2 separate regions of the Homo sapiens genome follow, and region 2 is linked to region 1. Evidence: fine-mapped expression QTL. A gene starts in region 1. The other region holds a variant in brackets. All regions are shown on one strand. Distances are between the middles of the regions. Region 1 holds the start of EARS2 (glutamyl-tRNA synthetase 2, mitochondrial). Region 2 overlaps EARS2 (glutamyl-tRNA synthetase 2, mitochondrial).

The links. PIP is the estimated chance that this variant, and not a neighbour inherited with it, causes the effect.
Region 2: its variant is fine-mapped to the expression of EARS2 in whole blood (TOPMed, PIP above 0.99).

What each region holds. Positions count from the first base shown.
Region 1 is chr16:23,548,556-23,564,395 of GRCh38, reverse strand. EARS2 (glutamyl-tRNA synthetase 2, mitochondrial) reads left to right here and starts at 7,046. Exons shown (of 9, transcript NM_001083614.2): 1 at 7,046-7,191; 2 at 12,092-12,247. The coding sequence starts at 7,053. UBFD1 (ubiquitin family domain containing 1) reads right to left here and starts at 6,669. Exons shown (of 7, transcript NM_019116.3): 1 at 6,629-6,669; 2 at 6,117-6,446; 3 at 4,720-4,928; 4 at 2,125-2,190; 5 at 1,666-1,771. The coding sequence starts at 6,653. RefSeq lists silencers at 6,247-6,426, 6,527-6,616 and enhancers at 5,784-6,427, 6,687-6,886, 6,428-7,072, 7,077-7,356, 7,717-8,361.
Region 2 is chr16:23,519,816-23,529,035 of GRCh38, reverse strand. It overlaps EARS2 (glutamyl-tRNA synthetase 2, mitochondrial), which reads left to right. Exons shown (of 9, transcript NM_001083614.2): 8 at 3,657-3,792; 9 at 4,582-8,282. The coding sequence ends at 4,665. It also overlaps a transcript of GGA2 not described here. Among named protein-coding and RNA genes, the nearest start is that of GGA2, 14 kb to the right of the region's middle. The variant A/G (reference allele first, on the strand shown) is at 5,992.

The DNA.
Region 1 (15,840 bases):
TTAGAGTTGAATGTGAAATGAAGAAAATAGCAAGTTATCATAAAATTGATAGAAAACTCAAGCATTTTTGGCATTTCAATTTTTGTTCATTTTAACAATCAGTATAGGGTTGAACACTGATTTTTGTGTTTTAGATGATTAAAAACTCTCTCTTCCCACCACCCCTGCCCCAATTATTCTCCATAAAACTTGGTCCCATTTTAAGTGGAGTCTCACTAAATGGTCTGTCCCTGAAACCAGTGAACGTCAGATGATGGGACCCCCTATACTTCTCTTTAGCATTTACCTCGAACACTGAATACCTACAGTGCTGGTCAGAAACAGGTGATTTAGGCATGTTCGGTTCCCTCCAGGAATCTAACAGGGGGACAGACAAGTCAGAGAGTAATGAGTGCTCTGGGGATATAAACGAAGCGCTCTATGAACAGAAGCGGCAGCAAGTCATTTGGAGGGTGGGGGGAGAATCAAGGAAGGCTTCATTCAGAGAGGACATTTAAGTAGGGCCTTGGAAGATTTTATTAATAACAAGGAATGGGAAAAAGGCATTCCAGGTAAGGGCACAGCATGAGCAAAGACAAGGAGCTGTGCAAAGCACACTGGGAGCTTCACAGAGAGATGCGGCTAAAATACACAGGGGACCACAGGGCAAACGGGCCAGAAGCTGGAACCAAAATTTAAACTAAGGCCCAGTGTTGAGAACACTGAACGCTATGGTTAGGCATTTGAATGTGTCCTTAAACAGCCAAAGGTCCTTGAGCACGGGTACCCAGGATAAAAAGCAGTAGGTAAGATGGACAGGACAGAAGAAAACACAGATGGGGCAGTGAAACAGGGTAACTCGCTTTGAACAGACCAAGTTTAAAGATGCTTGGGAACTTTAACTGGCACAACAGTGTGGCAAAGAAAGGGACAGACAGTTCTGCAGTGTAACTAACAAGACTTTGTAACCATCTGGGGGAAGGGAGAGGGAGGACAGTCAGAGACACTTCCCAGCAAACAGCAAGGCTGATCCAGACACCGTGCACAGGCGGGGGTGGGGCAGGCAGAGGGCAACCAGGCGGGGAGGGAGAGGCAGATTCCTCGGCAGCGGTTAGGAAAACTTCACCTACTATAGGGTCAAACTCTGACCTACAGGGGCCAGGCAGGTGACAAATGAACAAAGCTGGCTACTTCTAAGATAAATGGGACCATGAAGACTGTAGTATGGCCCACTGGAAACCACCACTCGGCTCTAGTGGATCGATGCCATGTGAGAATGCAGGCCCCAAAGGGCCAGATCATTTGAGTTTTCAAGAGAAGCCAAAAAAAAAAAAAAAATCAGATTAGTGAAATCTCCCAATTTTTACAGATTGTGTGTCATCCCACAAAACATTTTTCTGTGGACCAGATTTGGCCCTTGGGCCACGTGTTTGGGACCCCCAAATCTGTGTGCAACTGAAGAGCCACTGTTTGGTGGATCAGCCCTAAGATCAGACTGAAAACAATGAGGGAAAACGGTCCAAACAAAAGGCGAGCATCTAAAAGCAAATTTAAAAGCCAGAAGCAAGCAAAGCACAGTGGAGAGAGAGGTTTCAGAAGGAGGGGTGAAATCGCACTCTAAAATGTGAGTGCTGCTGGGTGCCAGAGGCAGGCAGTGGGCCAGCAAGGAGGCGAGGAAGAACATACCTTTAGTGCCAATCCACAGCTGGTCTTGTTCTAGTTTAAAGGTGAGTCTCACTTTTCCTCCAGATTTATTGTACATGCCGGACAGCGGTACCGTTGGCAGGCGCTCCTGAAGGCACGAGAGAATGGTAAGAGATGGAGGGACAGTCAGAAAAAAAGAGAAGGGGGCCAAGCGCGGTGGCTCACGCCTGTAATCCCAGCACACTGGGAGGCCAAAGCGGTCAGATCACCTGAGGTCAGGAGTTGGAGACTAGCCTGGGCAACATGGTAAAACCCCGTCTCTACTAAAAATACAAAAATTAGCCAGGTGTGGTGGCACACCCCAGCCTGGGTGACAGAGCAAGACTCTGTCTCAAAAAAAAAAAAACAGGGAAAAAAGAGAAGGGACAGGATTGGAGGAACCTCAAGTCAGACGGTGGGGCTGCCTCATTTTCAGAATGCTCACAAAGAAATCCGCCTTACCTGGGCCCCCTTAACAGATGGCATCACATCTTCAGGTTTTCCTTTATCCAACACTTTCCTGTGTTGCTATAAGTCAGAAGAGAGAATGAAATGAAACAGCTGACTACATTTCGTCGTGTTACTATTCCCTTGAAAGAGAGGATGAAGAAAGCCTTAGTGTTTTGGCTCAAAAGCTTTTAATGACGACAGACTATGGATCCTTTGAAACTATAGCACAGTGCTGTCCAGCAGAACTTTCTGGGAGGGCGAATATGTTCGTACCTGTGCTAGCCACTACCTACTGCTGTGACTATTACACACTTGAAATGCAGCTACTATGACTGAGGAACTGAATTCTTAATTTCATTTTAACCAGCCACATGTGGATAGCTACCATATTAGATATCAAAGTTCTACAGCAAACGGGATTTCCAGATTGCCCTCCTCCCCTCAAAAAAAAAAAAAAAAATCACCACTGAAATGATTAAACCATCAAACTAAAGAGGGCGACAAAGGGTGTTGCTCTCCTAGCAGACAAAAAATGGCACCCACCTTTTTCAACTTAAACTTCCAGAGAACACTATAAGATGCTGGTAATCCGTCTAACTGCCTAGGAGGAGCAGTTCTTCAACAAATGGAGACCCAGCCCATCGCCGAAGTTTTCCCCACTGCCCTACCCTTAACTCCAGCTAAACAGGAACCTGGAAGAGCCACCTTTCAGAAAGAAATGCTTATTACTCTATAACCTGACATTAAGAAGCCTCTAAACTCCACCCCTACCACCTGCCCCAAGAACTCTGAGGCAGCTCTTCAAGGATTCTAAGTTCAGGGCCCCTTAAACAGTTCTCCTGCCTGGCCCAAATGCCTGAGTCTTCTTTCTTCTCCATCTGTGGCCTTATAGGCATAGCCACTGCTTGGAAGGCTGGAACTAGGGGACAATGAATGGATAGAAGGTAACAATTTAATCAAATGTAAGCACTAGGCAGCCACAAGCCAGCCCAAATCCTCACTGGCATGGTGGAATCCCTCTGGGAGGAATAAACTCAGCACTGCCAGACTGCTAGCAAAAAGTCACTCCAGACATCACCCCCAGACCCCTTAATAAGCTGGTAAAAAGGCAAGGGACTATATCCCTCTCATTAGGTCATGTGATGCATCATAATTGGCCTCAATGAAACACAGCAGCATGGGCTGGAAGTACAATTCGAGTCACACCTTTCAAGTACCTTTTGAACAAGATTTCCTGTACTGTGGAGAACAGTTCTAAGCCTGTTAAGCTACCATTAGTAACTAAAAACCTGTATTTAGGAGGCATGTTATGCTCCAAGGGTGTGACCATTGCGACCACTCCTATCTGACGTGCTCACATTTCACTATTTCATACATGTGGCAAAGAAAAACAGGAATATGAGAAGAAACTCAATCGGTTTCAAGACACTGAGACCCCATATGTGGGGGTGAAGTCTCCAAATCAACACCTTTTAGATAATTAATATAGGTTTATAACCCCTTATCTGAAACCCTAGAGTTTTGAACTTTCAGGGTTTTGGAATTTTTATAAAGATAATATTGCTTTCAAATACATAACAATCTTCTCTGTGGGGTCTGGGGCAGTACCTTGTCACCAAAGAGGAAAATTCACACTAATTCTGGTCAGGTTTTGCTGTTAAATTTATAAAAACACTTCTCGTTTTTATACTCCTTTGGGGTTTTGGAAGCACACATGGGGGATTATGGATCTGTAACACAAACTGTGTCCTTTTCTTACTGTTGGTCATATATCTTAGTGTCTATGGTCACTAAATGATGTTGATTGAAGTTTATCTACTCTACTTCAGACACAGTTGAGAATACCTGTCTTCCTTGGAACACTAGGAAGAACGATCAGGAGGCTACACAGCAATCAGTATAATTTGCCAGGTAAAAAGATAACAAGTAATGATTCTTACAACCTGTTCCTTCCATAGTAAAATAATCTCACTTTTCCTCGTTACGTGAAAGAATGTTAATGGCTATGATGAGCACAAGACAAGGCAGGATCTCTTGCAGCCAAAAGAACAGAGAACGTAAAAAACCAAGCTCCTATTTCACAGATCAGGACAAAAAAATAAATAAACAAATCCATCAGTGTAGTTGTCTTCCTACTCAGCTTCATTTAGCTTCCTGAAACGGTCAGCTTTAGGGGAACCTCCGAGAGTTGTTGATTTCCATGCCTAGCCAGGCTTGTTGACTTGGGGAAAGCCACAAACCAAAAAGCCAAATGTAAGCACTTGTACAAAATGAGGGCTTACTTCTAGTACTGGTAGTTTTCTCTGGCACTAAATAAGAGAGAGAAACCCACGTCTGATTCCTTTCAACACATGGTCTGAAGCCTCCCTTTACCAAGGTCTTATCCTAAAGTAGGTAGACTTGAGACACACTGACCCGCCAGATGAGACAAAGTTGCAAATCTCAGGTAGTTGTCACCTCCACTCTGCGGCACCCAACTGCTGCCATAAATTTCCATCATGGGCCCTGTCCAAAAAGGAGCTTATTCTAGGGAGAATATAACCAGCCACGGCTCAAGAGGACAAAGCCTCAAATTTCTCAAGACCAAGAAGCACAAGATGGACTCACTTTCTGCCTGCAGAGAGGCTCCTTCTTGTTCTCTTCGGCCTTTGCATCCTGCTGCGCAGCATCTTTGGGTGTGTTTACTGCTAAAACATCATTGATGGTGGAGCCAACCACCATGATCTTGGCCCCACTGGTCACTTTTATTTCTCTCAATGTTTTATCCTCGGGGACGAGTCCCTTATACATGACTTTCTGCATGGCAGGCGGGAGACCTTGGGAAAAGGTAGAAGGTGGACAGTGAAAGGAAGGAAGGACAGAAAAATGTATGGATACTACACAGCTCTTTGGTAACAGACCAAAAAGTGAATACTGCCTCCACCACCTATTAGCTTTGTGAACTTGGGAGATTTACAACCTCTGAACCTCAGTTTCTAGAACTGTAGAAGATTTATTAGAGTAAGTCCTTCTGTACAGACCTGTTTCAAGGATTAAGAGACCAATGCGGGGCATTTAGTACGGTGGCTAGCATTGAATAATTGTTCAGTAAGTACTAGCTCTCATTCTTTCCAAGTTGTTCCTCAGTCATCTAAATCATTCACATATTAAGTGAGAATCCACAGGCATCAGAGCTACAGAAGCCAATAGGGACAAAACTCCTGTTCTTAATGGAGATTACAAGGCTACATGTAGAAAGCTTTAAAAAAAAAAAAAAGTTCAAGGCCAGGAGTGATGGCTTATGCCTGTAATCCCAGCACTTCGGGAGGCCGAGGTGGGTGGATAAAATAAAAAAAACTAGCCCGGCGGGGTAGCGGGCACCTGTAATCCCAGCTACTCGGGAGGCTGAGGCAGGAGAATCGCTTGAACCTGGGAGGCGGAGGCTGCAGTGAGCCAAGATGGTGCCAGTACACTCCAGCCTGGGCAACAGAGCAAGACTCCGTCTCAAAAAAAAAAAAAAATAGGAAAAAGAAAAGAAATCTCAGATGGCAAAGAGCTATGAACAAGGTAAAATTAAGAAACAGAATCGACTGTGAAGAACCAGCATCAAAGTCAATAGCAGCGTTTCCTAAACTTCACTTAGAAGAATTACCTAAGATATTTGCTAAAAATAAATTCCTGGCTACATCCCAGACCCACTGAATCAGAATCTCCTGGGAAAGGGCCCAGAAGCTGTAAAACAAGCGCCTTAGGTGATTTTTTAATTAGAGATGTTAGAGCAACATCAATGAGAAACTGGGGCCTAAACGTCAGACTTCGGCTTTAATCCCAGCTCTGCAACTTACTAGCTCTATAAACTTGAGTCTCTTTCCCCAGCTGAGTAATGGGCATCCAAGTATCCTTCAGAAGACTGCTGTAAGGATGGGGGGACCTGATGCAAGGAAAGCCACCAGGTGCCTAGTAGGGTGCAAGGGCCATCAGGAGGCGGGGTGGGGAAGACTGGCTGTCAGCGCCACAGGAATTACCTGTAATCGAGTGGATCTTCTGTTTCAGCTCGGAGCCTGTGCTGTCCAGGGGGAACTTCACGTCATGCTTGGTCTTATTCCAGATGATCTTCAAGTCCACCAGCTCCCTGCCCGCGCCGCCGCCCGCGTCTTCGCCGTTGCTGACCGAGGCCTGGGCTGCGGGGTCCCCAGGGGGCTGGGCCGGGGCCGGCTGCAGGCTGCCTCGTGCGGCGCCGGAGTCCTCGGCCGCCGCCCCCGCCGCGGCTTCAGCCTCCAGGCAGTTGACGGGCCGCGCGGGAGCCTCAGTAGCCACAGTCTCGGCCTCCGTGTCCATGCCAGGTTCCTCCATGCCTGCAAGGGGGTTAGGGGGTGGGCGCTCGCCGCGGGCTGGGCTTGGGAACGGACGCTGTCCGGGCGCCGCCGGACCTCCGTTCCCGAGCCGCGGTTCTCCCTCCCGGGCCGGGCCGCATCCCCCAGAGGAGCGACCGCAACCTCAGCCCCGGCCCGGCGCCCGCCACCCCCGCCGCACTCACCATCCGGGGCCCCGGCCGCCGCCATGATGATTGTGTACAACACCCACCGCTCCCGCAGAGGCCGCTGGGAAGAGGCGAGCTGGCTGAGATTGGCCCCCGCAGCAGCCCCTAATCTCTCACAGCCCGGCCGGAAACAGGTGGAGGTTTCTATGGAGACCCGCCTCCTCCGCTCCCAGGTCCGGCCCCTGCCACGCTTTCGCTTTCCCAAGCTGAAGGGGGCGGGTCCGGGAAATAGCCCTTTCTCTGGCCTCTGCCCCCTGGTGGCGAGTGCGGCCGCAGCCGTCCAGGGGGGCGTGGGATTTCGCGCTAGGGGGCCTGTGACTTTAAGGGGCAAGGCTGCGCTGGCTGTGGCGGAGGCCGATTGGCTGGAAGCAGTCCCCGGAAGTGACGCAGGGAGAAGCCCACGTGTGCTATTCCATCCCACATGGCGGCGCTCCTGAGGAGACTGCTGCAGCGCGAGAGGCCTTCGGCGGCCTCTGGCCGCCCCGTAGGACGGCGCGAGGCCAACCTGGGCACTGATGCCGGGGTTGCGGTGCGAGTGCGGTTCGCTCCCAGCCCCACAGGTAACCCTGGCGGACGTGACGCTACAGGCCGAGGCCCCCTGTCCCGTCTCCGCCCCACGAATGTTCCCGAATGAATCCTTTCCGGTGGTGTCAGAGTGGGCGGGCGGAGGAGGGTTAAGGCAGCGCGAGCCCATTTTACAGAGGCGGAAACTGAGGTGCAGGAGCGGAAATAATTCAAATTGCCAGGAGTTTCTTGTGTTTTTTGTGCCATCCCATCTCTTTCGATCTTTTTTTCATGCATTCCATACATGTGCATTGATGACAACCTGTGTAACAGGTGTTGTAGACGCTGGGATACAGTGATCATTGAGAAAGGTAGGGGCCTTGCTCTGTGGAAGTCTGCATTCTAGTGGCTGCCGCAGACACTTATAAAAAATAAGTGTAATTTTAGAGTCACATGTGCCATGCGGGAAGTGAAACAGGATAGGAGACTGGGGATTAAGAAGGACGCTCCAGAAGGCTTTACTGAGCAGGTAACATTTGAGCTGAGATCCAAATGACAAGAAGGAGCACGCTATGTGAAGCCTATAGAAGGAACCTTCTGGAGGCCAGGCGCGGTGGCTCACGCTTGTAATCCCAGCACTTTGGGAGGCAGAGGTGGGTGCATCACTTGAGGTCAAGTGGATCACTTGAGAGCCGTCTGACCAACATGGTGAAGCCCTGTCTCTACTAAAAATACAAAATTATCTGGGCATGGTGGCGCATGCCTGTAATCCCAGCTACTTGGGAGGCTGAGGCAGGAGAATCGCTTGAACGCAGGAGGTGGAGATTGCGGTGAGCCAAGATCGCGCCATTGCACTCCAGCCTGGGCAACAAGAGCGAAACTGTGTCTCAAAAACAAAAAAGAAGGAACCTTCTGGGTAGAGGAAATCGCAGGTACCAAGGCACTGTGCTAGTGCTGTTGGGAGCTTAGCAAGCTAGAGGGTGACAGAGGCCCATTGTATAGCCTGTTGGAGATCTCGTCAGGGCCTTTTGGTTCCCACCAGTAAGGCTACCTTCTACGTTCTCTACACGGAGTATGCCTCTCATCCCAAATCCCAGGATGAACATACAAAGATCTTTGTAGTAAAATCCCAGCTATACATGACAGGATCTTTCTGGCAGGCAGTATAGCCTAGAGCAGTGCCTTTCAAACCATCTGTTGTGGAAGTGCTGGTTTTAAATTTCCAATCAATTGTGTATCAATATTTGCACAAAATTAATATAATGACCAGAAAAATAAAATTTTGAAAACATCCAAAATACAAACCAATCTCATTTTATTTGGGTTAGCAGAGGTAAAATCATTCTGCCAGATTGCTATGTAAGTTTCGCCTGGCCAATATGGCAAAACCTTGTCTCTACTAAAATACAAAAATTAGCCGGGCATGTGGCCCAGGCCTGTAATCCCAGCTACTCAGGAGGCTGAAAATCGTTTGAACCCAGGAGAAAGAGGTTGCAGTGAGCCGAGATCGTGCCACCGCACTGCAGCCCGGGTGACAGAGTGAGACTCCATCTCAAAACAACAACAAAAGTTTCTAAACCTTTACTCTCAGTTTCTGTACTTGATTGTGAACTGACAACTGTTTTCAGACCAGCACTGGATTGCACACTTTGCTTTGAAGAGCACTTATGTAGAATGCCAAAGCCTGGGATTGCCTGGGTCCAAATTTCTGTCGTGGCCACTTATTAGATGTGTAACTTACTAGATGTGCAAATTATTATTGTTATTTTGAGACAGGGTTTGGCTCTGTCTGTCGTCCAGGCTGGAGTGCAGTGGTGCAATCTCGGCTCACTGCAACCTCAGCCTCCGGGGCTCAAGTGATCCTCCCACCTCAACCTCCCGAGTAGCTGGGACTACAAGTGTGTGACCACTACGCCCAGCTAATTTTTGTATTTTCTTGTAGAGATGGGGTTTTGCCATGTTGCCTGGGCGGATCTTGAACTCCTGAGCTCAAGTGATCCACCTGCCTTGGCCTCCGAAAGTGCTGGGATTATAGGTGTGAGCCATCACACCTGGCCTAGATGTGCAAATTATTTAATGAATCTGAGCCTCAGTTTCACCATTTGTCAAAACGGGGCTAATAATAATATCTGTCTTATGGGGTTAAGCTCATGCAGCCGAACCACTTAGTAAGGTCTAGTACACCCAGAAAGCACTTAATACACAGCCTCTATTATGATGATTGTACTTCTCATTTCCTTGCTCATTTGCGGGGAAAGCCCATGTGGGAAAGGCTTTTGACTATAAACAGATAAAAGAATTATCAGGCACAGATCATTACAGTAGCTGAAATTAATTGAGGGTTTACTTTGGTCAGCATTTAGACCTCAGAGCAACCCTATAATAAAGAAGGTTCTTATTTTTTTGCTCTTAATCCCTCTGACAGATGAGGAAATAGAAGCTCATAAAAGTTAAGTAGAGTTCCTTCTCAAGGGGTAGCAACTAATAAATGGTGGATGCAGAATTTGAATCCAGGTGTACTTGATGTAAGAGGCTTTGTTTTCAGCAGCTGGGTTCCTCTTTTGTCTTGGGGACTCGTGGGACTCAGTGCCACTGAATACCACTGGTTTTCTGGTGTCCTTGCAGTAACTATCCGAAGGTTACACACATCAGTGTTGAAGCAGGGTCGGCCTGGCCCCAGAAGAGCTTTTTCTCTCCTCTGCTGCCTCTTGTACTTGTAAATGTAGATGAGCTCATTGTGGAGACTTAGGGCTGTGGGCTGGTCCGAAGAAGGTACGGTAAGAGGTAATGACAACTCTGGAAAAGCTGTTAACTTTCAGTTTTCAGACAGGAATGATGAAAAAGGCAAATCTTAGGAGTTTAAACTGATGAAGAGAAATACAGTGGAATCAAACACTACTTTTGGTTAGTGTTTAAAGCCAGCAATTAGGGTGAAAATCTTGGCAAGGCATGGTGGCTCATGCCAGTAATCCCAGCACTTTGGGAGGCTGAAGTGTAAGGATTGCTTGAGCCCAGGAGTTTGAGACCAGCCTGGGCAACATAGTGAGACCTTGCCTCTGCAAAAAAAAAACCAAAAAACAAATATTAGCCGGGCATGGTGGTGTACACTTGTAGTTCCAGCTACTTGGGAGGCTGACGTGGGAGGATTGATTGAGCCTGGGTGGTTGAGGCTGCAGTGAGCCGTGACTGTACCACTGGACTTCAGCCTGGGCAAGAGTGAGACCCCATCTCAAATTTCAAAAATGAATTTTGTTTCTTTAAAAAAGTAAAAATCTCAAGTAGATGAAATTTAAAATGTACGACGTGGACAGTCATGCACACTGCATAGACTGCATATGCAAAATGTGATTTTTTTTTTTTTTTTGGAGATGGAGTCTCGCCCTGTCGCCCAGGCTGGAGTGCAATGGTGCGATCTCGGCTCACTGCAACCTCTGTCTCCTGGGTTCAAGCAGTTCTCCTGCCTCAACCTCCCAAGTAGCTGGGATTACAGGCGCCCACCACCATGCCCAGCTAATTTTTTTTGTGGTATTTTTAGTAGAGACGGGGTTTCAACATGTTGGCCAGGCTGGCCTCAAACTCCTGACTTTGTGATCCACCCGCCTCGGCCTCCCAAAGTGCTGGGATTAAAGGTGTGAGCCACCATGCCCCACCGATTTTTTTTTTCTTTGTAGAGACAGGATCTCACAATGTTGCCCAGGCTGGTCTCAAATTTAGAGACCCAGGTGATCCTCGTGCCTCTGCCTCCAAAAGTGCTGGGATTAGAGGTGTGAGCTACTGCACCTGGCCCACAATATGATTGTACAGTATTTTAAATTTCTAGTTTGTTTGTAATTAATTTTTTTCCCAGCGCACATCATTGAATTTCTGTAAGTTAAATGTACATGATATGGCCTCAATGAATAACTCTCTGCTTCTCTTTCAGGCGAAACTTGGCCTTGAGACAAATATCAAAATAGAGTGGTGGATGCAGTTGGGGAAAATTGGAGCCTTTTAATAAAATGACATGCTCCAAATCCTGGGTGGTTTCCATTTTCAGGATGAGGGATTAAATGTGTCTGGAGACAGGGCACAGGGGTAACTAGTTCTTAGTCTTTGAAAAAAAATTTTTTAATTTTTAATTTTTTTTGTTTGAGACAGAGTCTCACTCTACTGCTGCCCAGGCTGGAGTGCAGAGGCGTGATCATGGCTCGCTGCAGCCTCAGCGTCCCCAGGCTCAGGTGATCCTCCCACCTCAGTAACTGAAACCACAGGCATGTACCACCATGCCCAGCTAAATTTTTATATTTTTTGCTAAGACAAGGTCTCACCATGTTGCCCAGGCAGATCTCAAACTCAGGCCAAGCACAATGGCTCACGCTTGTAATCCCAGCACTTTGGGAAGCCAAGGCAGATGGATCACTTGAGGTCAGGAGTTCGAGATCAGCCTGACCACCATGGCAAAATCCTATCTTTACTAAAAATACAAAAATTGGCCAGGTGTGATGGCTCTTGCCTGTGATCCCAGCACTTGGGAGGCCGAGGCTGGGGGGATCACTTGAGGCCAGGAGTTCAAGACCAGCCTTGCCAACATGGCGAATGCCTGTCTCTACCAAAAATACAAACATGTAGCTGGACGTGGTGGCACACACCTGTAATCCCAGCTACTCGGGAGGCTGGGCATGAGAATTGCTTAAACACAAGAGGCAGAGGTTGCAGTGAGCCAAGACTGTGCCACTGCACTCCAGCTTGGGTGACAGAGTGAGACTCTTGTCTTAAAAAACCTACAGGAACCTCCTGGGCTCAAGTGATCCCCCCGGCCTTGGCCTCCCAAAGTGGTAGGATTACAGGCGTGAGCCAATGTGTCCTGCTGGTCTTTTAAATTTATTGCAACATTCTGTCACAGTAGTGCTTACTTGCCCCTTGCTGAGGCCTATTAGCTTATCTTCCCTGTCTTATCTGAGCTGTTCTCTTCTCCAGGCTTCTTGCACCTGGGTGGCCTCCGCACTGCCTTGTACAACTACATCTTTGCTAAGAAGTACCAGGGGAGCTTCATCCTGAGGCTAGAGGACACAGATCAGACTCGCGTTGTGCCTGGGGCAGCGGAGAATATTGAGGACATGCTGGAGTGGGCAGGTAAGCCTGGCAGAGAAAGGATCTTTCTGCAGGGAAGGAACAGGAAGCAGGAAAAGGAGCCTGTGGGTCTTCTCATGGAGTTCTGAGTGGAAAATGGGGAGTTCCTGGAGAAGTGGCTACATTTGTACTGCCCTGCCCGGGGTGGCAGATGACACCTGAAAAAATGCCGAAGCTCTCTGAAACACAGCTCCAAGACTGGTTTCTTTATTTTTATTTATTTATTGTTTTTGAGACAGAGTCTTGCTCTGTTGCCCAGGCTGGAGTGCAGTGGTGCGATCTCGGCTCACTGCAAGCTCCGCCTTCCGGGTTCACGCCATTCTTCTGCCTCAGCCTCCAAGTAGCTGGAACTACAGGCGCCCGCCACCACGCCCGGCTAAGTTTTTTTGTATTTTTAGTAGAGACGGGGTTTCACTGTGTTAGCAAGGATGATCTTGACCTCCTGACCTCGTGATCCACCTGCCTCGACCTCCCAAAGTGCTGGGATTATAGGCATGAGCCACCGCGCCCAACTTGGTTTCTTTATTTTTTAATTTTTTAGAGTCAGGGTCTCATTTTGTTACCCAGGCTAGAGTTCCATGGCACAATCATAACTTACTGTAGCCTCGACCTGGGCTCAAGTGATCCTCCACCTTAGCCTCCCAAGTAGTTGGGACTACAGGCACGCACCACCACGCCTGGCTAATTTTTAATTTTTTTGTAGAGATGAGATCTCACTGTGTTGCCCAAGCTATTCTCAAACTCCTGGGCTCAAGCAATCCTCCTGCTACAGCCTCCCAAAGAGCTGGGATTACAGGTGTGAGCCACTGCCAAGGCTGTTTTGAGATTCCTGTTTTCACCTCAGAATCTCAAGTTCATTCCCTACAGGGGCCAGGCAGGAAACACAGGGCCAAGTGGGAACTGGAGGAGCTGGGCCAGTGCTGAGCTGTGAAAACCACACCTCATCCAGAGTTGGGAGTGCCTCTGAGCTCCAGCTCCTTGTGCCCATGCGGGAATGCTGGCCCAGCTTGTCCAATCCTCTGAGTTGCAAGAGGAGCCAGAAATCCAGTTTTTCTGGATGAATACTTAACCATTATTAAATCTGGGCTCAGATTTTTTTTAACCATGTTGTATAAGCCACACAAAACACGTACAGCTTCTGAAGTTGATCTTGTGGGAAGTTTTATCCTGAGGACAGCTAAGGTCAGGGAGAACAAAGAGGAGTGTGTTTCCTTTTCATGGGTCGACAGTTGTCTACCTGTATGGACGGGTGTGACTAGGAAAGGGGAGATTCCCAAGGAAAAATACCAAGACTCTGCTAGTCTAGAGATTGAAAAAAAAAGAAAGAAAAACCCCAAGACTATTTTGAGATGTGTGTTCTAATCTCAGGTAAATTACTCACTAAACTCTGGATTCCTAAAGAGTATAAAATGGTTGGCCGGGCGTGGTGGCTCACGCCTGTAATCCCAAAACTTTGGGAGGCCGAGGCTGGTGCATCACGAGGTCAGGAGATCGAGACCATCCTGGCTAACATAGTGAAACCCCATCTCTACTAAAAATACAAAAAATTAGCCAGGCGTGGTGGCGGGTGCCTGTAGTCTCAGCTACTCAGGAGGCTGAGGCAGGAGAATGGCGTGAACCCGGAAGGCGGAGCTTGCAGTGAGCCGAGATTGCATCACTGCACTCCAGCCTGGGTGACAGAGTGAGACTCTGTCTCAAAAAAAAAAAAAAAAAAAAGACCATGTGCTTAGTGCCAAGGGAAAAGACAGATGAGTGGATTAATTATTTCTTTTTTTTTTTTTTTAACAAACAAAATCTTGCTCTGTTGCCCAGGCTAGAGCGCAGTGGTTCAAACACAGCTCACTGTAATCTCAAATTCCTGAGCTCAAGGGATCCTCTCACCTTAGCCTCCTGGGTAGCTGGCACCATAGCTGTGTGCCACCATGCCCAGCTAATTTTATTAACTTATGTTTTTGTAGAGGTAGGGTCTTGCTATGTTGCCCAGGCTGCTGTTGAACCCCTGACCTCAAGTTAATTCTCCTGCCTCGGCCTCCCAAAGTGCTGGCATCACGGTCATGAACCATCGCTCCTGGCTCCTAATTCATTCTTCATAGGATACTAAATGATAATAACCAGTATGGAGAAAAGAGTAACAGGCTTAGAAACTAGGGCGAGGGATGCCCTTGTAGATAGGGCAGTTTTCTCTTAGGAGGTGATGCTGGAGCAGAGACCTGCATGAAGTGAGGAGCCAGCCCCGTGGTGACCTGGGGGAAGAATGTTCAAAGCAAAAAGAATAGCCAATGCAGAGGCCCCACAGCAGGAGTGTTCTAGATGTATTTGAGGAGCATCAAAAAGACCAGCTTGGTCTAACCATAGTGAGCAGAATGACCAGGGATGTGAGGATAGAAGGCTTGCCAGGTCGGGCACAGGGGTACACGCCTGGAATCCCAGCACTTTGGGAGGCCAAGAAGAGAGGATCACTTGGACCCAGGAGTCCAAGACCAACCTGGGCCACATAGTGAGACCTCATCTCTACAAAAAATTACCCAGGTGTAGTGGTGCACTCTTATAGTCCCAGCTACTTGGGAGGCTGAGGTGGGAGCATCACCTGAGCCTGGGGAAGTTGAGGTTGAGGCTGCAGTGAGCTGTGATCATGTTACAGAATTCCTTCAGTGCCACTTTGCCAGCCAGAAATCTCTGCAGCTGCCCTCACCTCTGTCGGGGCCTCGCTTGGGCCTTCTGGGCCCATTTGGCCCAGCAGGCTGCACTTGGCTCATGCCCACTTGGATCCCACACCTGCCATGGCTCCACACTCAGCCCATGGCTGGACTGGGTGTGCCACGAGTGGCTTCTGTGTTGGGTGCTGGCATCTAGATGAGGGGAACATGGTGGCACCCAAAAACTTGGGAAATACCATCAGTTGTGGAGCTCCAAGGGGTGTTATAGCTCTTGTTTGGGGAGTCCTGAGATCTGAGTCCCCAGCACTGTCTCAGCTCTTCACTCCTGTAGCTTGGTGAGTGGGAGCGTGTTACAGCTCTCTTTCTCCTGTAGTCTGGTGAGCGGGAGCGTGTTACAGCTCTTTTATTCCCGTCACCCGCAGCTTGGCGAGTTTTGGGTTCTTGTCCTGCAACCAAGAGGAATGAGGTGTGCAGGTACCATAGAGTGAGTAAGGCAGAGAAGAATTTTATTGAATGACAGAAGGGAAACTCTCCACTGCGAGAGGGGACCCTGAAAGTGGTAGCCATCTGTGAGGCTGAGTCTATCATTTTTATGGGCTTAGAATGGGGGCATGCCTGCCGATTGGTCCATGAGTGGTCTTGGAAAAAGGACCATTCAGTTGGTTAAAACATCATCCGGAAGGAACCAATCGAGAGAGTGGGTGAGACAGGGAAACAAGTTCTCACTCCAGTCATGGACTCTATCCTGACTTGACAGTTTGGTTTTCAGGCTGTCTTTGGCTTAGAAGTCAGATTTCACCAGGGACCTGTCCCTGACTGCCTAGGAATTTGTCTGTCTCCTGTCAGTCATGCCATTACACTCCAGCCTGGAGCGACAGTGTGAGACCCTGTCTCAAAAAAAAAAGGCTTTCCAGGAGCCAGATTACATGGTGCCTCACA
Region 2 (9,220 bases), 32 kb after region 1:
TAATGCAGGAGTCGGTACTCCATTACCAAGATTCGCTTTCGCTCTCTGCCTTTCCCCTTCTGCCCCTACTCGCCGATGCTGACCACTTTTCCTGCAGAGGCTGTGTATCAGGTAACTAGAGGGCAAGACTCTCTACCAGACAAAAGAAATGACAGCGCATGTCCTTTGTGGAAGTACATTTCTCCATTATGTAGCAATCTGCAGGAAGCAGCTCAGGGCTCATCCTCCCACCTCAGCCTCTTTAGAAACTGGGACTACAGGCACAAGCCACCACGCCCAACTAATTTTTTTATTTTTTGTAGAGACAAGGTCTTGCCATGTTGCCCAGGCTGGTCTCAAACTCCTAGGCTCAAGCAATCTTCACACCTCAGCCTCACAGAGTGCTGGGATTACAGGCGTGAGCCATAGTGCCTGGCCAGGGCCTATTAGTTCTAATTCACCAGGATTCAGTGTCGTAACTGCCTGTCTCCACCATGAGGTTGGGTTTTAGATTTGCTCTGGGACTCCCTCTCGAGTCAGGAAAGCTGATACCCAAATGTTCAGGAGCTGCCAGATCACTAGAAATCCTTTCTGTGCCTATGCCATGGTTCTTAACTCTGGGCCAGCTCTAGCAGGTCTGGAACTGCCATTGTTCCCGGCCTGGGGCCTGTCATTGTTTCATCAGCTCCTCGGCAGCCTGCTTCCCTGCAGTGCCATTGGGGAGAGTGTCTGCTTTTTTCCCACATTATATTTTTTGTCTTCAGTATTTCATCTCCTGATTTTTGTAAATAGCAGTACTCATGTGACCCAGTTAATAATTGTCTCAGTCCATGGGGTTGCTATAGCAAAATAACATAGACTGGTGGCTTCAACAACAGACATTTATTTCTCACAGATCTAGAGGCTAGAACTCCAGGGTCAAGGTGCCGCCGATTCAGTGTCTGGTGAGAGCCTTGTTCCTGGGCCCTTCCCTTTTCCAGCCCTTCGCTGCATCCTCACGTGGTGGAGGGACGAGGGACTCTCTGGGGTGTCTTTTATAAAGGCACTCATCTGTGCATAAGGGCTCGGCCTGCATGACCTGTTCACCTCCCAAAGCCCACACCTGTGAATACTGTCCCCTTGGGGGTTAAAATTTCAACATATGAATTTAGGGGAACACAAACATTCCGAACATAGAGATGATGCAGTAAGAACGATCATCCTTTGCTGGGCGCGGTGACTCACGCCTGTAATCCCAGCACTTTGTGAGGCCCAGGCGGGCCGATCACGAGGTCAGGAGATCAAGACCATCCTGGCTAACACGGTGAAACCCCGTCTCTACTAAAAATACAAAAATTTAGCCGGGTGTGGTGGTGGGCGCCTGTAGTCCCAGCTACTCGGAAGGCTGAGGCAGGAGAATGGCGTGAATCCGGGAGGCGGAGCTTGCAGTGAGCTGAGGTTGCACCACTGGACTCCAGCCTGGGCGACAGAGCAAGACTCTGTCTCAAAAAAAAAAAAAAAAAAAAAGAACGATCACTCTTGTCTGAAATTGAAACTCATCTGCTTCAGTGCTGACAGTTAGTAAGGAGATCTGTCTGCACTGAAAGGCTGCTTCTTCAAATCACTTATGAACCCAGTTCCCTGAGACAGTAGTGGTCCATACTGAGTTGACTTTGGAATGCAGTTGCCTGGACCATGTTTGAGCAGGCAGGGTCAGAACTGACATCACAGACCATCTGCACCAGAAAGATGTCCAGCCCCAGTTCCTCTTCAGTGTTTCCATGTTGGAATCTCCAGTAATAACTGAAGGGAGGCTGGACACTGTGGCTTGTACCTGTAATCCCAGTATTCTGGGAGGGTGAATGGGGAGGATCACTTGAAGCCAGGAGTTTGAGACCAGCCTGGGCAACATAGCTTGACCCCATCTCTACAAAAGGTAAAAATAAAATTAGCCAGGCATCGTGGTGGGTGCCTGTGGTCCAAGCTGCTCAGGCAGCTGAGGTGGGAGGATCGTTTGAGCCCAGGAGTTTGAGGCTGCAGTGAGCTGTGATTGCACCACTGCATTCCAGCCTAGGTGACAGAGCAAGATCCTGTCTTAAAAAAAAAATAATTAATTATTTTTAAAAACTGAGAGGAACTGGAAAGTTGCAGTGAAATATACTCATCCCCAGCCTATTCCCATCTCTTGACTAACTCAATCAGGGCCGAGGCAAATTTTTGTTAAGTCCACCTCTAACTGAATGGAGAATTTCTCCTGAAACAAAAGCTTTTGGGCAGAGCATCTTGCTCAGCTGGACTGCCAGGATGTGGGGGTTGGTTGCTGGCCCGCTGGAATCCTAGAGGCTTCAATTTGTGGAAGAATGGCCATAGCAAGTTGGTGGCAGAGCCATTGCTGGAGCTGGGTGGGGTCTTCTGATTTCTTCTCTTCTTGGCTACGTCTCCAAAGAAGTCTCTCTCTACCAATCTTAAAGCTGTATTTCAGATAATTTCCCAGAAATTATCCATTCTATGTCAAATCTATTCCTAAGTTTCTTTTTTGTTGTGCCTGCAAGCAGAACTGTTTCTTTTTAGATCCTTTTGTAATGTCTCAAAGCTCTTGATTGTACTTAACTAATTTTTAAAAATTTTAAATTCAAATACGAAATGTAATACTTGGCCGGGCATGGTGGCTCACGCCTATAATCCTGCCTATAATCCCAGCACTTTGGGAGGCCAAGGTGAGTGGATCACCTGAGGTCAGGTGTTTGAGACCGGCCTGATCAACATGGTAAAACCCTGTCTCTACTAAAAATACAAAATTAGCTGGGCGTGGTGGCACGTGCCTGTAATCCCAGCTACTCAGGAGGCTAAGGCAGGAGAATCGCTTGAACCTGGAACGTGGAGGTTGCAGTGAGCTGAGATCGTGCCATTGCACTCCAGCCTGGGCAACAGAGCGAGACTCCATCTCCAAAAAAAAAAAAAAAAAAAGGTAATATTTCTGAGTATTTATCATGTGTTCAGGCACTTGGTGCTTTATAAGTTTTAACTCTCTACGATAGCCTTGTGCAGGACAGATACTATTATTTTTTTTTTTTTATTTTGAAACAAAGTCTCGCTCTGTCACCCAGGCTGGAGTGCAATGGTGCAATCTCGGCTCACTGCAACCTCCTCCTCCCAGGTTCAAGCAATTCTTCTGCCTCAGCCTCCTGAGTAGCTGGGACTACAGGCACCCGCCACCATCCCTGGCTAATATTTTTGTATTTTTAGTAGAGATGGGGTTTTACCATGTTGGCCAGGTTGGTCTCGAACACCTGACCTCAAGTGATCTGCCTGCCTTGGCCTCCCAAAGTGCTGGGATTACAGGTGTGAGCCACTGCGCCAGCCTCAGATACTATTATTCTCCCCACTTTACAAATGAGAAAACTGAGGCATAAAGATTGCATGACACAGAGGTAGCAATGAGTAAAGCCTCTTATGGCACCTCTTACCTCCCTGCATTGTGACCACTGGCTTCTCTGTGTGTGGTCCCTTGGTGGTTTTTCCTTCCCGACCTGGATAAGGGAGAAAGTGGTCAATATCTTCCTCACCTCCCTCAAAACAGGCTTGAACATTGGTTGTGCTGCTCGTACTGTAGCTGATCAATAACCTTCTGAAGCCCTTCCTCCCACCCACTTGCCATTGGCCCATGCAGGCCCTGTAAACTGGCCCTCTTCTTCTAGGCTTCTAGAAAGATCTAGTATGAGCTTAACTCAGGATATGCTGAATGGAGAACTGAAGAAGCTATCAGAAGGTCTGGAAGGCACCAAGTACAGTAATGTGATGAAACTCCTTCGGATGGCCCTCAGTGGACAGCAGGTGAGGCAGGGACACGGGTTGGATTGTTCCCTGGAGCCCCTCATTGATCCTTTGAACTTACATTTCCTGGCAGGCACTGAGCTCAATATTGAGTATACAAAGGTGAATGAAACATGATCACTCCCCTCATTTAGTCAATCAACAGACACTATTGAGTACCTACTATGTGCAAGCATTGTGTTAGGTACAGTGAATACAATATAGAATTAAACACACATACATAATCTCTGCCTCCATGGGGTTTGCAGTTTATTGGGGATAACAGACCTAGCAACAGCTTACTTAATATGGGAAAATCAGGCCAGGCACGGTGGCTCACACCTGTATTCCCAGCACTTTGGGAGGCCTAGGCAGGTGGATCACCTGAGGTCAGGAGTTTGAGACCAGCCTGGGCAACATGGTGAAACCTTGTCTCTACTAAAAATACAAAAATTAGCTGGGGGTGGTGGTGCGCCTGTAATCCCAGCTACTTGGGAGGGTGAGGCACGAGAATTGCCTGAACCTGGGAGGCAGAGGTTGCAGTGAGCCAAGATCGCACCGTTGTATTCCAGCCTGGGTGATAGAGTGAGACTCTATCTCAAAAAAAAAAAAAAAAAAGGGCGGTGGTTGGAGGAGAAACAGGCTCTTAGGACCCATCCTTTTCCAGGGAAATAACACAAGCACTGATCCTCAGAACACAGGCAGCAGTGTGGGGGCTGGCCTGGGAATAATTTCTGCAGACTAAGGCTGAGCTTCAGTTCTTTAGGCTGTTTAAGGTAGTAAGGCAATATTTGCTCTTTTTGTTCTTAGCAAGGACCTCCTGTAGCTGAGATGATGTTGGCCTTGGGACCAAAGGAAGTACGGGAACGGATCCAGAAGGTGGTTTCCAGCTAGGGAGAGGATGTTTCGGGCAGTGGAGATCGCCCTAAGAACCTGTGAGCTTAGAAACAGCTTTCAGAGACCAGAAGGAGGCCTGGGGCCCGTCGGGAAGTTTGCTGAAGGAACTAAGAGTGGAAACAATCTCTGACTGCACACAAGTGCATTTGTGATCCACCACAGGCACGTTTTTGTCAATTGGCTGGGGAAGCCCAACCCATCTAACCTCCTGGACTCTGGAAAGGCATTCTCCGGGTCTGGTTTCTCACACATTACACAGCAGAGGTTTGGAGTTAGTTCACAGAAAAGTTAACATCCCGGAACAGTGCAGAAGGCTTGGGTTTCAGTTTGCTAGGGCCCCCATAACAAAATGCCACAGAACCAGGTGGTTTAAACAACAGAGATTTATTTTCTCACATTTGGAGGCTAGAAGTTCAAGATCAAGGTGTCAGCAGGCCTGGTTTTTCCTAGAGGCCTCTTTTGTTGGCTTGCAGACAGCTGTCTTCTCACTGTGTCCTTGTGCGGTCTTCCCTCCATGCACACACATCTCTAAGTTTCATTATGTGCCCAACGTTCCTCTTCTAAGAACACCAGTTGGACTGGATTTTAACTTTAACCAGCCTCATTTAAGTTAATCACCTCTTTAAATGCTCAATCTCCAAGTACAGTCTCATTCTGAGGTTCCAGGGGTTTCTCAACGTAAGAATTTAGGGGGACAGAATTCAGCCCGTAGCAGCTGGGCAGCAGGACTCATGGGTCCCAGTTCTCAGGCCCCAAGGACTCAGAGCAGCAAAGGATACGTGACACAAGCAGGGCTGAACTGGACACCAGACTTTCTTTGGGGTTGTAAAAGGAGAAGTGTGACTCCACTGCCAAGGGTAAGCACTCTTGTCTTATGCTACCCTTTATTCTTGAACCTTGGGGCAGCCTGTGTCTCCCTTCCCTAAACGTCATCTGTTCCGTTTTTCCAGTCTTCCAGACCTGGTCCTTGGACTGGAGACCTTCACCCTTCCTATTTTGTGGCTTTCTCTTCAAATCCACCTCGTCCTTCCTCCATGACTTATAAGTCATCATCTCTGCTGGTTTCTGAAATGAGATATGCTTCTTGGGGTCTTCAGTGAAGAGGAATAGCAAGTGAAAGGAGGATGGTGGCAGGGTACATGAACCCCTACCAGGCTTCTAGGCTTCCCCTGCATGGCAGCCAGCCTCTAAGTTGGCCCCCAACCATCCCTGCCTTCTTCTATTCACACCCTTGTGTGGTTCCTTCCCACATTGAATAGGCCTGACTTGTGTAACCACTACACTATTGAAGAAATGAGAGTTTGACTTCTGAGGGTAAGTCAT[A/G]AAATACATCGTGGCTTCTGTCTTGTTTTCTTTGATCGCTTACTTTGGGGGAAGCCAGCTTCCAGGTCATGAAAATACTCAAGCAGCCTTATGGAGTGCTCCACATGACAAGGGATCGAGGCCTCCCACCAATAGCCATGGGAGTGTGCAATCTTGAAAGCTGGTCCTTCAATTCCAGCCAAGCATTCACATGACCGCAATCCTAGCTGATCTCGCTTGTGACCTCTATGGGAGACCCTAAGCCAGAACCACTCAGAGAAGCTGCTCCGGAACGTCAGACACACATGAACTGTGAGATAGTAAACGTTTATTGTTTAAAGCTACTTGGTTTGGGGATAATTTGCGTTTCAGCAGTAGACAATATATTTATTTTGTCCAGGGGAGTGGAAAGGCGATTACAGAGTTTGTTGAGCCCCATAGAGTCCTAGTCTTTGCTTAAAGAAATATACCAGTTCTTTCTAATACAGAATCCATTAAGTTCGTTGGTTGCAAACAATAGAAACCAACTCTGCCTCACTTATGTTTATTGGAGGCCATAAGAGAGCCACAGCATCTACCAAAAAGCCAAAAAAAAAACAGGTTTTGGAAAAGACAGGAACTAGCTACAGGAGCTAATGGCCAATCTTGTCTGAGTTCTTTGATGGCGACACATGAACTACAGCCGTTTTGTTGTTGTTAATTTCTCCGTGTTTTCCCCTCAGTTTTGGATGACTCTGCTCAAGGTTCAGATTCTGAGGAGCAAGTATCTGTTGGGCTATCTGAGGTCCTGCTACCATTCCTTGGCCAGTAATAGGTAGTTTCACAGGGATTATATGCAATGGAGGAAAAGTTGTTCTCAAGGAAAACTAGGGAGCTTTCTCCAGAAGATGATGTAATGGCAGAAACAACAGGTGGTTGACCACAGAAGGGGACAATAATAATACTTGTAATTTATTGTGCGCTTATATGAGCCTCACCCTCTCCCAGGTGTCAGATAATGCTCGTAAATGCCTTAGTCCATCATCTCAGTAAATTTTTTTTATAACACTATGAGAGAAGCAGTATTTTTTTTTTCTGTTACAGATATGGAAACCGAGGTTCTGAAAAGTTAACTAAAACTTCCGAGGTTATAGTACGAGGCAAAACCAAGATTTAAACTCAGATCTGTGCCGATCCAGAGTCCAAGCTTAACTCTGATCTACTGAGTGTTGTCAGAGCATCTGTTTCTAAGACATTAAGAATGGTTAAAAGGAGCTTCTTGGCTCATGGTCAAGTGAGTGTTTTTAACAAAGTGAGTGGTCAAAATACTAAGTCGATTCTGGTATATCTACAACATGGATGAACCTCTAGGACTTCATGCTAAATGAAATGTCAGTCACAAAAGGACAAATACGTCCTAATGCTTTGTGAGGCAAAGGTGGTAGGCTTGTCAAAGGCCAGGAGTTTGGAGACCAGCCTGGGCAACATAGTGAGATCCTGTCTCTACAAAAAATTTAAAAATTAGCCAGGTGAGGTGACATATGCCTGTAGTCCCAGCTACTTGGGAGACTAAGGTAGGAGGATCACTTGAGCTGAGGCGTTAAGGCTGCAGTGAGCTATGAATGCACTACTGCACTCTAACCTGGGCAACAGAGCAAGATCCTGTGTCTAAAAAAAAAAAAATGAATAAAATAAAGTTAAAAGGATAGATACTGTAAGATTCTACTTATTTGAATTACTTAAAATAATCAAAATTATACAGGCAGAAAATAAGATGGTGGTTGTCAGACTTGGGGAGGCAGAAATGGGAAGTTACTGTTTAGGGTATAGAGTTTCAGTTTTGCAAGATGTAGTTACAGGGGTCAATGGTGGTGATAATTGCACAACATTATAAAGATACGTAATGCCGCTGAACTGTATATTTAAAAATGACTGAGATGGTAAATTTTATATTTTTCTGTATTTTACCACAGTTTTTAAAAAATACTAAATTAGAGCTGGGCCTGGTGGCTCACACCTAGAATCCCAACATTTTGGGAGGCCAAGGCAGGCAGATCACTTGAGGCCGGGAGTTCAAGACCAGCCTGGCCAACATGGTGAAACCCCATCTCTACTAAAAGTACAAAAATTAGCCAGGTGTGGTGGTACATACCTATAATCCCAGCTACTTGGGTGGCTGAGGCACAGGAATTACTTGAACCCCCACAGAACGGGAGGTTGCAGTGAGCCAAGATCACACCATTGTACTCCAGCCTGGGGAACAGAGCGACACTCTGTCTCAACAAGAAATTAATAAAAAAGCGAAATTAATAAAGCTGTTGCTACTTCCTCAAGTGAAGTGTGCTGTGCTATCTTGAAAGCAGCTCCAGACGTCTGTCTTCTGTTTGAGGGTTTTGCTCAGGATCAGTAAGACTTTTTTTTTTTTTTTTAAGAGGATGTTGCTCTGTTGCCTGCCCAGACTGGAGTGCAGTGGCACAATTATATTTCACTGTAGCTCTAACTCCTGGGCTCAAGAGATCCTCCTATCTCAGCCTCTTGAGTAGCTGGAATCACAGGTGCATGCCACCACACCTGGCTAAGTAAAAGTGTTTGAAGGAATTTCATACATTTTAAATAACCTCAAGCCCATCCCCAGTGTTTTGAGGGTATAGTGCAGCAGTGAAGGGCACAGAGGCTGTCTAGATTCAGAAACATTCTGCCCCTTATTCACATGTGACTTTCTGTACCTCAATTTTCTTGTTTGTAAAATAGGAATAAGAATTGTACCCATCTCAAAGAGTTGTAAGGATTGGAATAGATAACATATACGAAGTTCTTTTTTTTTTTTTTTTTTGAGACGTAGTTTCACTCTTGTTGCCCAGGCTGGCATGCAATGGCGTGATCTTGGCTCACTGAAACCTCCACTTCCCGGGTTCAAGTGGTTTTCCTGCCTCAGCCTCCCAAGTAGCTGGGATTACAGGCATGTGCCATGTGCCGCCATAGCCAGCTAATTTTGTATTTTTAGTAGAGACGGGGTTTCTCCATGTGGATCAGGCTGGTCTCAAACTGCCGACCTCAGGTGATCCGCCTGCCTCGGCCTCCCAAAGGGCTGGGATTACAGGCATGAGCCACCACGCCTGGCAACATATATGAAGTTCTTAGAACATTACATGGCATTTAATAAATGTTAGGTAACTATCACCATTATTTTCATCCTTAGAAACAGTGATCTTGGTGGCAATGCATAGAAACACACTCAGACTAACTGAAACCATGAAAGGAATTTATTGGA